Regions from separate parts of the Homo sapiens genome. Here regions 1 and 2 are each reported to be linked to region 3. The links are microRNA targets in miRTarBase. Many come from high-throughput screens and were not tested one by one. Region 3 holds a microRNA gene; each other region holds the end of a gene's coding sequence.

The links. The annotated mature microRNA hsa-miR-6877-3p reads CAGCCUCUGCCCUUGGCCUCC and lies in region 3 at 2,448-2,468, opposite strand. An mRNA with a match to its seed (bases 2 to 7 or 8) in the 3' UTR can be bound and repressed. Matches are read on the target gene's strand: a 7mer-m8 pairs with bases 2 to 8, a 7mer-A1 pairs with bases 2 to 7 and ends in A, and an 8mer does both.
Region 1: miRTarBase lists BNIP3L as a target of hsa-miR-6877-3p. Seed matches in the 3' UTR shown: 7mer-m8 at 1,652-1,658.
Region 2: miRTarBase lists PSG4 as a target of hsa-miR-6877-3p. The part of its 3' UTR that is shown has no 7-base or 8-base seed match.

What each region holds. Positions count from the first base shown.
Region 1 is chr8:26,409,670-26,413,736 of GRCh38, forward strand. It overlaps BNIP3L (BCL2 interacting protein 3 like), which reads left to right. Exons shown (of 6, transcript NM_004331.3): 6 at 695-3,458. The coding sequence ends at 743. Among named protein-coding and RNA genes, the nearest start is that of BNIP3L, 29 kb to the left of the region's middle.
Region 2 is chr19:43,189,711-43,193,777 of GRCh38, forward strand. PSG4 (pregnancy specific beta-1-glycoprotein 4) reads right to left here. Exons shown (of 6, transcript NM_002780.5): 6 at 2,992-3,678. The coding sequence ends at 3,662. Among named protein-coding and RNA genes, the nearest start is that of PSG5, 5.2 kb to the left of the region's middle.
Region 3 is chr9:133,050,503-133,054,502 of GRCh38, reverse strand. MIR6877 (microRNA 6877) reads right to left here and starts at 2,507; the gene lies at 2,444-2,507. It overlaps GTF3C5 (general transcription factor IIIC subunit 5), which reads right to left. Exons shown (of 11, transcript NM_012087.4): 4 at 3,525-3,720; 5 at 2,339-2,443; 6 at 561-675; 7 at 15-95.

The DNA.
Region 1 (4,067 bases), not on the chromosome of region 3:
CTTGCCGTCTCTCTTTCAGTCATCTTCAGATTGTTTGTCTTGGCTGTAAGTATAACTATTGCTATAGATGAATGTAAAAAGAGTGTTTAAAAAGTTCGTTGCTTTAATTGCACTGGAGGTGAAGCTAGTTACATACTTTCCTTAACTTCCCTTCTGCTTTTGCTGTTGAAGAGGCCAAATACTTTCTTGGCATGAAAAAGTATTATAAGGCCCCTAATCCTTAGGAGTTATTAGTAAGAGCTGTCTTTAAAGCACTGGCAGCTTTTAAGGTTTTTTTTTTCTTTTGTCCTACATAGAGCACCAGAATAATTTCACATATTACTATATTTTTGTGTCTGAAATGTCAGTAGAACCTTCTGTCCACCAAAGAGGAACATCTTGAAGGAGTTGGGCTGCTTTATTTACTCTGTGGAGGGATCTGTTCTCTCTGGCTTTACTTTGTCTAATCACTACCCCTTTGCTGTCGAGCCCCGATATTTAATGAGTAAACAAACTCATATAAAACCAGTTTGGCCGGGCTGGTGACTGGTTTTAAGAAAGTCAGTGATGATTTCACGGTGTTTGGGGAGCGGTACCCACAAACCTTTAGAGCCTTTTACAAAGACTGAAGAGTTTTAAGTAGAGTTCAACCTGTGGACAAGCTGGTATAGAACTGTTGAAACAGGTGAAACATGATGCTTCTGCTTCCTTTCAGCATCTATATTGGAAAGCGACTGAGCACACCCTCTGCCAGCACCTACTGAGGGAAAGGAAAAGCCCCTGGAAATGCGTGTGACCTGTGAAGTGGTGTATTGTCACAGTAGCTTATTTGAACTTGAGACCATTGTAAGCATGACCCAACCTACCACCCTGTTTTTACATATCCAATTCCAGTAACTCTCAAATTCAATATTTTATTCAAACTCTGTTGAGGCATTTTACTAACCTTATACCCTTTTTGGCCTGAAGACATTTTAGAATTTCCTAACAGAGTTTACTGTTGTTTAGAAATTTGCAAGGGCTTCTTTTCCGCAAATGCCACCAGCAGATTATAATTTTGTCAGCAATGCTATTATCTCTAATTAGTGCCACCAGACTAGACCTGTATCATTCATGGTATAAATTTTACTCTTGCAACATAACTACCATCTCTCTCTTAAAACGAGATCAGGTTAGCAAATGATGTAAAAGAAGCTTTATTGTCTAGTTGTTTTTTTTCCCCCAAGACAAAGGCAAGTTTCCCTAAGTTTGAGTTGATAGTTATTAAAAAGAAAACAAAACAAAAAAAAAAGGCAAGGCACAACAAAAAAATATCCTGGGCAATAAAAAAAATATTTTAAACCAGCTTTGGAGCCACTTTTTTGTCTAAGCCTCCTAATAGCGTCTTTTAATTTATAGGAGGCAAACTGTATAAATGATAGGTATGAAATAGAATAAGAAGTAAAATACATCAGCAGATTTTCATACTAGTATGTTGTAATGCTGTCTTTTCTATGGTGTAGAATCTTTCTTTCTGATAAGGAACGTCTCAGGCTTAGAAATATATGAAATTGCTTTTTGAGATTTTTGCGTGTGTGTTTGATATTTTTTACGATAATTAGCTGCATGTGAATTTTTCATGACCTTCTTTACATTTTTTATTTTTTATTTCTTTATTTTTTTTTCTCTAAGAAGAGGCTTTGGAATGAGTTCCAATTTGTGATGTTAATACAGGCTTCTTGTTTTAGGAAGCATCACCTATACTCTGAAGCCTTTAAACTCTGAAGAGAATTGTTTCAGAGTTATTCCAAGCACTTGTGCAACTTGGAAAAACAGACTTGGGTTGTGGGAACAGTTGACAGCGTTCTGAAAAGATGCCATTTGTTTCCTTCTGATCTCTCACTGAATAATGTTTACTGTACAGTCTTCCCAAGGTGATTCCTGCGACTGCAGGCACTGGTCATTTTCTCATGTAGCTGTCTTTTCAGTTATGGTAAACTCTTAAAGTTCAGAACACTCAACAGATTCCTTCAGTGATATACTTGTTCGTTCATTTCTAAAATGTGAAGCTTTAGGACCAAATTGTTAGAAAGCATCAGGATGACCAGTTATCTCGAGTAGATTTTCTTGGATTTCAGAACATCTAGCATGACTCTGAAGGATACCACATGTTTTATATATAAATAATTACTGTTTATGATATAGACATTGATATTGACTATTTAGAGAACCGTTGTTAATTTTAAAACTAGCAATCTATAAAGTGCACCAGGTCAACTTGAATAAAAACACTATGACAGACAGGTTTGCCAGTTTGCAGAAACTAACTCTTTTCTCACATCAACATTTGTAAAATTGATGTGTTATAGTGGAAAATAACATATAGATTAAACAAAATTTTTATCTTTTTTCAAGAATATAGCTGGCTATCTTTAAGAAAGATGATATATCCTAGTTTTGAAAGTAATTTTCTTTTTTCTTTCTAGCATTTGATGTCTAAATAATTTTGGACATCTTTTTCCTAGACCATGTTTCTGTCTTACTCTTAAACCTGGTAACACTTGATTTGCCTTCTATAACCTATTTATTTCAAGTGTTCATATTTGAATTTCTTTGGGAAGAAAGTAAATCTGATGGCTCACTGATTTTTGAAAAGCCTGAATAAAATTGGAAAGACTGGAAAGTTAGGAGAACTGACTAGCTAAACTGCTACAGTATGCAATTTCTATTACAATTGGTATTACAGGGGGGAAAAGTAAAATTACACTTTACCTGAAAGTGACTTCTTACAGCTAGTGCATTGTGCTCTTTCCAAGTTCAGCAGCAGTTCTATCAGTGGTGCCACTGAAACTGGGTATATTTATGATTTCTTTCAGCGTTAAAAAGAAACATAGTGTTGCCCTTTTTCTTAAAGCATCAGTGAAATTATGGAAAATTACTTAAAACGTGAATACATCATCACAGTAGAATTTATTATGAGAGCATGTAGTATGTATCTGTAGCCCTAACACATGGGATGAACGTTTTACTGCTACACCCAGATTTGTGTTGAACGAAAACATTGTGGTTTGGAAAGGAGAATTCAACAATTAATAGTTGAAATTGTGAGGTTAATGTTTAAAAAGCTTTACACCTGTTTACAATTTGGGGACAAAAAGGCAGGCTTCATTTTTCATATGTTTGATGAAAACTGGCTCAAGATGTTTGTAAATAGAATCAAGAGCAAAACTGCACAAACTTGCACATTGGAAAGTGCAACAAGTTCCCGTGATTGCAGTAAAAATATTTACTATTCTAAAAAAATGAGAATTGAAGACTTAGCCAGTCAGATAAGTTTTTTCATGAACCCGTTGTGGAAATTATTGGAATTAACTGAGCCAAAGTGATTATGCATTCTTCATCTATTTTAGTTAGCACTTTGTATCGTTATATACAGTTTACAATACATGTATAACTTGTAGCTATAAACATTTTGTGCCATTAAAGCTCTCACAAAACTTTTCCTGTCAGTATATCATTTTTCTGTCGCACCTGTTGCCTGGGAGTTTCAGGCGATGAGGCCTCCTCGCCTACACACAGCCTTCCAGTCATCTGGCTTCCCCAGCAGTGGAGTTCCTAACAGTGCTCAGGGTGTGAACGGTGTTCTGTGGGGACAGTCACCGCAGTGTGAGCATTCGTGAGTGCCTCGGGACTGTGGCATTCAGAGCATTTGCCTCCAGGTAGTGGCAGGAGGGCGCTCACGGGAGGAGTGCTCAGGAAGTACAGGAGAGAAGAAGAGTGTGCCCTGATGGAAATGACAGTGGGACACCAGTGAAAGTGGATCCAGAAGGAACTGGAAGTTCCACGTGCCTGGAAAACAGGATGGATACAGAGGAAACTGAAAAATGTAGGTTAGTACTGAACCTAATTGAAATGTGTGTGCCCTCCCAGGGGTCACACTTCATCATATAGTTAGCTGGGTTTACTTCTTTTAAACCAGGAGGTGATTTAAGATGTAAATTTTAGACAGTCAAGCCATCTGGTGAGAGAGTACCAGAGGAGATCAATCAGTTCTCTAGGCGAGGAGCTAGGGCCTGTCCTGGGCTGTCACCCTGAGGTTGGCAGTGGTG
Region 2 (4,067 bases), not on the chromosome of region 3:
ATGTTTCCAAAGTCCATGCATGTTCCAGCGGGTGTCAGAGCTTCATTCCTCTTTATGGCAGATTAACATTCTGTTGTATGTGTCACCATATTTATTTATTCATGTGTTGATGAACACTTGGATTGTTTTCATATTTTATCTTTTGTGAATAATGCTGCAATCAACATTCCTATGCAAGTACCTGTTTGAGTCCCTGGATTTAATTTTTTGGGTATATACCTAGGAATGGATGTTGTTTCAAATGAGAATTCTATGATTAGCTTTTTGAGGAACAGGAAAACTGTTTCTCCTAGTGGCTGTACATTTTTATATTCTCACCAGCAATATATGAGGATTCGAAATTCTACATAATGCTGCTACTTGTTATTTAACATTGTAAAAGAATGGTAGCCAGTTTTGTAGGTGTGATTGGTGTCTCATTGTAGCTTTGACGTTGTATTTTCCTAATGACTAATGATGTTGAGTATCTTTTCATGTCCTTCTTGACTATTTGTATATCTTCTTTGAAGAAATGTCTATTTGAGTCTTTTGCCCATTTATAAATTGGATGGTTTGTCCTTTTGTTATTGAGTTGTAGCTAGTTCTTGATATTATCTGGACATGAAAACTGCCTATATGTGGTTTGCAGATATTTTCTCTCATTCTGTGCCTATTAATTATTTTCTTGATAATTTCCTTTGATGTACAAAAGGCTTACATCTTGATAAAGCCCAATTTATCTTTTTTTCTTGTTTCTCATGCTTTTGTATCATATCTAAGAATCCACTGCACATTTGAGATCATCAATACTTACGTCTATGTTTATTTTAAGATGTTTTTATGGTTATAGGTCTTATATTTAACTCAGTGATCAATTTTTTAGAGAATGGTTTGATATCGTGGGAGGTAGAATTATCTAAATTAACTGTTTTGCATGTGGTTATCTAGTTGTTTCTGCACTATCATTTGAAAGGAGAATTGTTCCTCCATTAAATTGTCTTGATACCTCCTTCAAAGAGTAATTGACCATAAGTGTCAGGGTTTATTTCTAGACTCTCAATTCTATCCCATTTGTCTTTATGTCTATCTTTTGCCAGCAGCTTCTGTTTTAATAATTGTACTACTTTGTCAGTTTTCAAATAAGAAAGTTCAAGTCCTACAATTTATTTCGGCAAGATTGTTTTGGCTATTCAGTGGTCCTTTTTGAAAGGTGGGAAGGCCAGTGTTTCACAATTGGGAAAGCCTTTTCTGTCTTCTTCAGGGGGAAATTTGGGAGAACCTTCAAGAAACTTATTCTAAGTAGGTAAACTGTCACCACTTTATTTGCTGAAGTGCTATGTTAAAGTGTGCATTGCCTCTTGTGGAAGAATTGTGAGACCCTGGAAGCACTTGCCCATGTGGTGAGAGACAGTAAATTCCACGATGAGGGGGGAAGGGAACATTGTTTTAGGACACCGTGTTGTTGGGGAGTTGTATACATCTCTACTTATTTATGTCTCTGTACAGTGGGTGTAGGGACCAGCCCCACAGGGTCGGTGGGTTTTTCTCCACATGTACAGAGATGAGAGATTGTAGAAATGAAGACACAAGACAAAGAGATAAAAGAAAAGACAATTGGGCCCAGGGAACCACTACCACCAAGACGTGGAGAACGGTAGTGGCCACGAATGCCAGGCTGCGCTGATATTTATTGTATACAAGACAAAGGGGCAGGATAAGGAGTGTGAGCCATCTCCAATGATAGGTGAGACCACATGGGTCACGTGTCCACTGGACAGGGGGCCCTTCTCTGTTTGGCAGCTGAGGCAGAGAGAGAGAGGAGAAAGAGCTTACAGCATTATTTCTGCTTATTAGAGACTTTTAGTACTTTCACTAATTTGCTACTGCTAACTAAACAGCAGAGCCAGCTGTACAGGATGGAACATGAAGGCAGACTAGGAGTGTGACCACTGAAGCACAGCATCACAGGGAGACGGTTAGGCCTCCGGATAACTGTGGTTGGACCTCACTAACATCAGGCCCTCCACAAGAGATGGAGAAGTAGAGTCTTCTCTAAACTCCCCCGGGGAAAGGGAGACTCCCTTTCCCGGTCTGCTAAGTAGTGGGTGTTTTTCCTTGACACTGAGGGTACCTCTAGTCCATGGTCCACTTGGCAACAGGTGTCTTCCCAGACGCTGGTATTACCACTAGACCAGGAGCCCTCTAGTGGCCCTGTCTGGGCATAACAGAAGGCTCGCAATCTTGTCTTCTGGTCACTTCTCACTATGTCTCCCCAGCTCCTATCTATTTATGACCTGGCTTTTCCTAGGTTATAATCATAGAGCGAGGATTATTATAATATTGGAATAAAGAGTAATTGCTACCAACTAATGATTAATGATATTCCTATATAATCATATCTAAGATCTATATCTGGTATAACTATTCTCCTTTTATATTTTATTATACTGGAAAAGCTCGTGCCCTCGGTCTCTTGCCTCGGCACCTGGGTGGCTTGCCGCCCACAAGTGGGCATCTCCGTTGGACACAGTAGGTTTTGAAATCCTTGTTTATTCTCTGGGGTCTGGGTCTTGGCTTACCTGTTAGCTGCAGCTGAAAGAGGTGTCTGCTAAGTCAATGACACCTGTGGGGAGAAGAAGGATTCAGCAGAGTGAAAGTAGCTGGGACTCAGAGAAGCCAGGAAAGTCTGACTCTTAGAAACTGTGGGTCAGCAGATGGGTGTCCTCAGGGATAAATGGGCCATGCCGGTAGCCACTGCAGTGAACTGGAAGAAGGTAAGGGATGCTGGGTATCCCATGTTCTCTCTCAGCTCTGCAGCTGAAGATTTGGGCCCTGGGCTAGTACAGCCCTGCAGCAGGGGAAGGGTATACAGGAATGGCTGCATATCAGGACCAAGTCCATGTCATCTTCTTAGGCATTGTTACTGCAGATGGAGGATTCTGTTCAGAGACCTGGCCTGGACACATGGGAGGGCCCACCCCATTCTTTTAAAATTATTTTAAGAGAACAGTATTAGCAAATGTGGTACATGTTTTATTCTGCTAGAATCAGTATTACTGTCACGTTTTACACTGTATCTCTTAGGAAATGGTGAGAGCCATCCACACAATGTGCATTTAAAGGAGACTCTACTATAATTTCAGCTTTCCTACTCTTTATAGAAACCATCTTCTCTGCAAACACACAGGCAATATCTCTGTGTTCATTTCTATTGGGAGCCCTGTATGCAAGATGGAGAGAGCCACATTTCCCCTGAGATGTTACGTAAAAGTTTGAGGTTGAGATGACATATCTGACACTCTGTTGTTACCCTCAGAAGCTACTACATGTGAAATTCTAATGACTGCATTATCCTGCCAAGTGAAAGAGGCAGGCATGAGCAAGGACGGTTAAGAGGGGTGGGAGCCTTATCATGATGGGGAGTCTTGTTCTGACATCTTTGGAAAAACTGTCCACAGTGTGAAGTCATCAACTTGTTATCCTGGTTTACAGTTTGAGTAGCTGTTGTTATGGTGTCGAACATTTTGGTGAGTTCTGAGTGGCTCACATGTCAGGTACAAGGGTTTTCCCATGAAATTTACATCGAGTTGTCCACCTCCAGCTTATAGGGCTTCTGGAACAGAGTGGGTCTTGCTCTTCGTGATTCCATGGGAGAAAATGGAATTGGAGGAACTAGTAGAATTCAGGGTAATATCCAGTCTACAGGTGGATAATAAAAACACAGAAACAATGAACAGAGCTGCAATCTCATAACCGGTGTACTACAGTTTTTATTTTCCACATAATTTTTCTCTCTATGGGCATCTCTAGTTTTACCAATGATAATTTCAGTAGAATAAGTTTGTTTGCAAAATAGGTTGAGTTTCTTCAAACGTGGTCTGATTCTTTACATAAGTGCAGCAAGAGTAGCAATAGACCATGTAGGCGCTCTTTTAGAATTTTATTTGCTCTAAGTTTTTATAAGGACTCTCAGATTAAACTTTTACAAAACCCTTGAGAATAGGAAGCCAAACCAAGGCTGACTTCAGACTTTGCCTGCAGTTCATATTGGTTCATTCTATCTATATTCTTGAATATAACATCCCAGT
Region 3 (4,000 bases):
CCTGGCACGCTTACATGTCTTCTTGACGGTGATGGGGAGGCTGTAGTTGTAGGTGCTGCGCTTTGCTTTGACCGGCAAGTCACTGGGGGCGTAACCTGTAGGCGAGGGCGGGCAAGTCAGGTGGGCGGGCACAGGGCCCGTCGGCACACAACACTGGCTTCACACTGGAGATGGGAGTTGGGTCCATGGGGCCAGCTCCTGAGAGGGCAACCCCAGACTGCCAAGCACGCCACTGCGGTCACCAACACATCTCAGCACTTCCCAGGCAGGGCGGGCACTGATGCTCTCACAAGTGCCTGGCCTGCATCACAGGACCATAGGGCACGTGGAGTCACTTAATGAGGGACTGTGGTTCAGAAACGGGCGGTCAGTGGTGGGGCCAGCACAGAACTAGGACTTTCGTTTCCACGCCATTCTGCATTCAAAAGAGTCTCAGCAACGGGGGCAAAAGGTTTTTTTATTCTTTCCAAATGAAAAGATTCTTACTACAAAAGAGAATGCTAGAAACTGAAAGATAAAGAGAGAGAAAGGCAGGAAGCAAAGCTTTCAGGAATTTTTACCGTGTTTCATTCCACAACGGATTCGGAAATCGAGGACTTGATAAATCTTGGCATCTGGGTTTTTTCGGGGGTCATACCCAAATCGAATCCATAGGCTGCGCCAGGGGCCTGTTATCTGGGACAGAAAAGTGGGGAAAATGTGAGGTGAGGTGAAGGCCCAGGTCCCTGGACGGGCCAGAGCCTACAGTGAGGCAGCAGAAGAGCTCAGGAGCTGGGGACAGGGCTCTGGATGCCCAGCCCTGCTCTGCCACATGCAGGCCCTGTCACCTTGGTGAGGGCACGTGGCCTTTCCAAACCTTGGTCTTCCTGTCAGATGGAGGGAAAAGGAGCACCCTTTCCTGTGGGTTTTTGTTTTTTGGGGGAGAGGGTCTCACTCTGTTGCCCAGGCTGAGTGCAGTGGCAAAATCACGGTTCACTGCAGCCTCAACCTCCTGGGCTCAAGTGATCCTCCTACCTCAGCCTCCCAAGTAGCTGGAACTACAGGCACGAGCCACCACACCCAGCTAATTTTTAATTTTTTTGTAGAGATGGGGTCTCATTATGTTGCCTAGGCTCGTCTCAAACTCCTGGATGCAAGCGATTCTCCCGCTTCAGCCTCCCGAAGTACCGGGATTCTAGGAGTGAGCCATCATGCCTGGCCTCCCATGGTTTTTCAGAGGATTAAATGAGATAGCGCCCGTGGAGCCTTTACCATGGTTCCTGGCACATATTAAGTGCCCAATGTTACTACTGGCCTAATCGATGAGACATCTTCTGTCCCTAAACGGAGCTTTTGAATGGCTTATGTCTAAAAAGCCAATGCCAGCCAGCCGCAGTGGCTCTCGCCTATAATCCCAGCATTTTGGGAGACCGAGACAGGCAGATCACTTGAGGTTAGGAGTTCGAGACCAGCCTGACCAACATGGCGAAACCCCATCTCTACTAAAAATGCAAAAAAAGAAAATTAGCTGGGCATGGTGGCGTGCGCCTGTACTCCCAGCTACTTAGGAGGCTGAGGCAGGAGAATCACTTGAATCCCAGAGGCGGAGGTTGCAGTGAGCAGAGATCACACCACTGCACTCCAGCCTGGGAGACAGAGTGAGACTCCATCTCAAAATAAATAAAATAAATAAAATAAAATAAAATGCCAACGCCAAGCAGCACAGGTCGCTCTCCTGAGCCGGAAGTCCAACAAGGCAGAAGAAATGAGTCTTTCTTGTGTCCTACTGCCTGTTGCAGACCCTCACAGTCATGTCTTACGCTGGCCTCCCCTAATGCTCTGTGAGGCCTGGCAGCGGGGAGGATCCCTTTCCAACCAGCACCTTTGGAACCTCAGTAATGACATGTGTCTTTACATGCTTGTGGATCAAAGGTGGATCTGCCTCCCACTGAACCCCACTCAACACAGGTAGAGGACGACATGGGGCCGCTGTGGTCAGGGGCTGGGTTCTGCAGCCCAACAGGCTGTGGAGGGCGCCCTGGACTCAGGGAGCTGAAACTTTTCTAGCTGGCTTTAATAAGCTGTCTTAGGGATGCTAGGATCGGGGGGCCAGGACAGGGGGGAAGGAAGGATGGGGGTGCCAGGACGGGGGAGGTGCTAGGTTGGGGGCAGGGCAGGAAGGATGAGGGCCAGGCCAGGGGTGGGTAGGAAGGATGGGCCAGGATGGGGGTGGGGCAGGAAGGATGGGGAGCCAGGATAGGGGGTTGGCTGCTCTTACTGTGGCTCTAAGACATCACAGCAGGGACCAGGGACCACATGGGTGGAAACCAAGGCAGGTGGGTGGGCAGCTGACACTTACCATGTAATAGGCTATGAAGGGAAGCAAGACCTTGAGCTTGTCTGGGTGGACGCTGATGTTGGCCTTGACAGCATTTCGGGACCAGATGGGACGGATGTCAAACAGCTGGGGAGGCCAAGGGCAGAGGCTGAGATGAGCACCAGCAGCTTCCACCCTTCGGCCCTGAACTCCCAACATGTTCTGGGCCCCAGCGGCCCCTCCAGAGAGGAGCTGGTAGAGGACAGGGGCTGGACACACAGGGCGTGGCCCTAGGACCTCCTGCTCTCACTAATTCATCCCTTCCCTCAGAAGCCTGGGCTGCATGCCCAGCCTGTGCCAAGTGCAGTTGTGGGGCTGGGTCTCTCAAACGATAAGAGACATGGTCGCTGTCCTCATAGAGCCCACAGCGCGGTGGGGAGTACGGCTCAGGGGGCACATGCTAGAGTCCCAGGGTCCCCATGCTGCCCCAATCTACAGAACAGGTGCCTGAGGTGGGACATCGTCAGGGCTGAAGGGGACAGCCTGGCCCGGGGAGGACTGCAAAGGTCAGTGTGGCCGGAGTGTAGAGGGCCAGGGGGCTGGGGCAGCGGGCCTCACGAGCCAATTCAGGTCAGGAATGTGGGCTGTGCCTGGTGGGCAATAAGGAGCCACTGACAGTGTGCCCCAGTGACTGCTGGAAATCAACAAGACATCCACGTGGTCTCCCACAGGCACACTGCGTAAGGGAAGCGCCGGGCTCCAGGTGGCAGTGGCCTGTGAACCTGATGCTCATGCCAGTGGGGACGCAGGACTCCACGGCACCCGCAAGCCCGGGGAAGGAGGGCTGCCTGGCAGCACGGTTCCAGTTCTAACGGTAAGAAAGTGCTGGGCCTGGCACACTAGGTGCCCCACTGGCTTGGCTGCAATGAGTGAATGGAAGAATAAGAGCTCAGTGGATCCCAGAGCTCCACGTTTATGTCACATCTGAACAACGCACGCATATTTTTCTTAAGAACTCTAAGAAGCATTTTCAACCTTGGGAATGTAGAACTTATACCGACACAGCCTTTAGACATGGCATCTGAAGGTGAGAAGTTCCCATGCACTAAGGAATGGGTAAAGGTCAGTGCAGCCAACCCCACAGCCAGGAACAGGGAGCAGCTGGGTAAACACGGGAAGCCAACAGAGAGGCTGGAGCCACCGGGGCCAGGCGCAGCGCAGGACTTGCCTTCCTCAGCTCCTCCTCCACCTTCCGGTCCACGGGGTTAGTGCAGACTCTCCTCCACGTCTGGGCTGCAGCCTCCAGTGGCTGCTTGGGCACCTCCTCATCCTCAAAGTTGACAAAGATGGCATTGTGGGGGCGCCGGGCTCTGCTCAGGCCAATCAGATTCTCACCTGAGATGGGGGGATTGTTGTAGCCTTCCCTGGGGGCAGAGAGTACAGGTGAGAACAGGAGCACCAAGGCCATCCCAGGCACCCGCTGGGCCAGACCAGGCAGGGAGCCCAGAACCCCCCAAGGCCCACAGCCACCGTGTGCCTCTCTCTGGACATCTGTGCTGGGAAAGGACCCCAGAGTTGGCTGCTAAAGGAACCTGTATTCACAGAGGAAGAGACGCAGCCACAACTGCCTATGACAACTCAGAGAAACCCTGGGGCCTGCAGCTCTCAAACTGGGGAAAGGCCAAAAGGTCCTAGAGGCTGGAG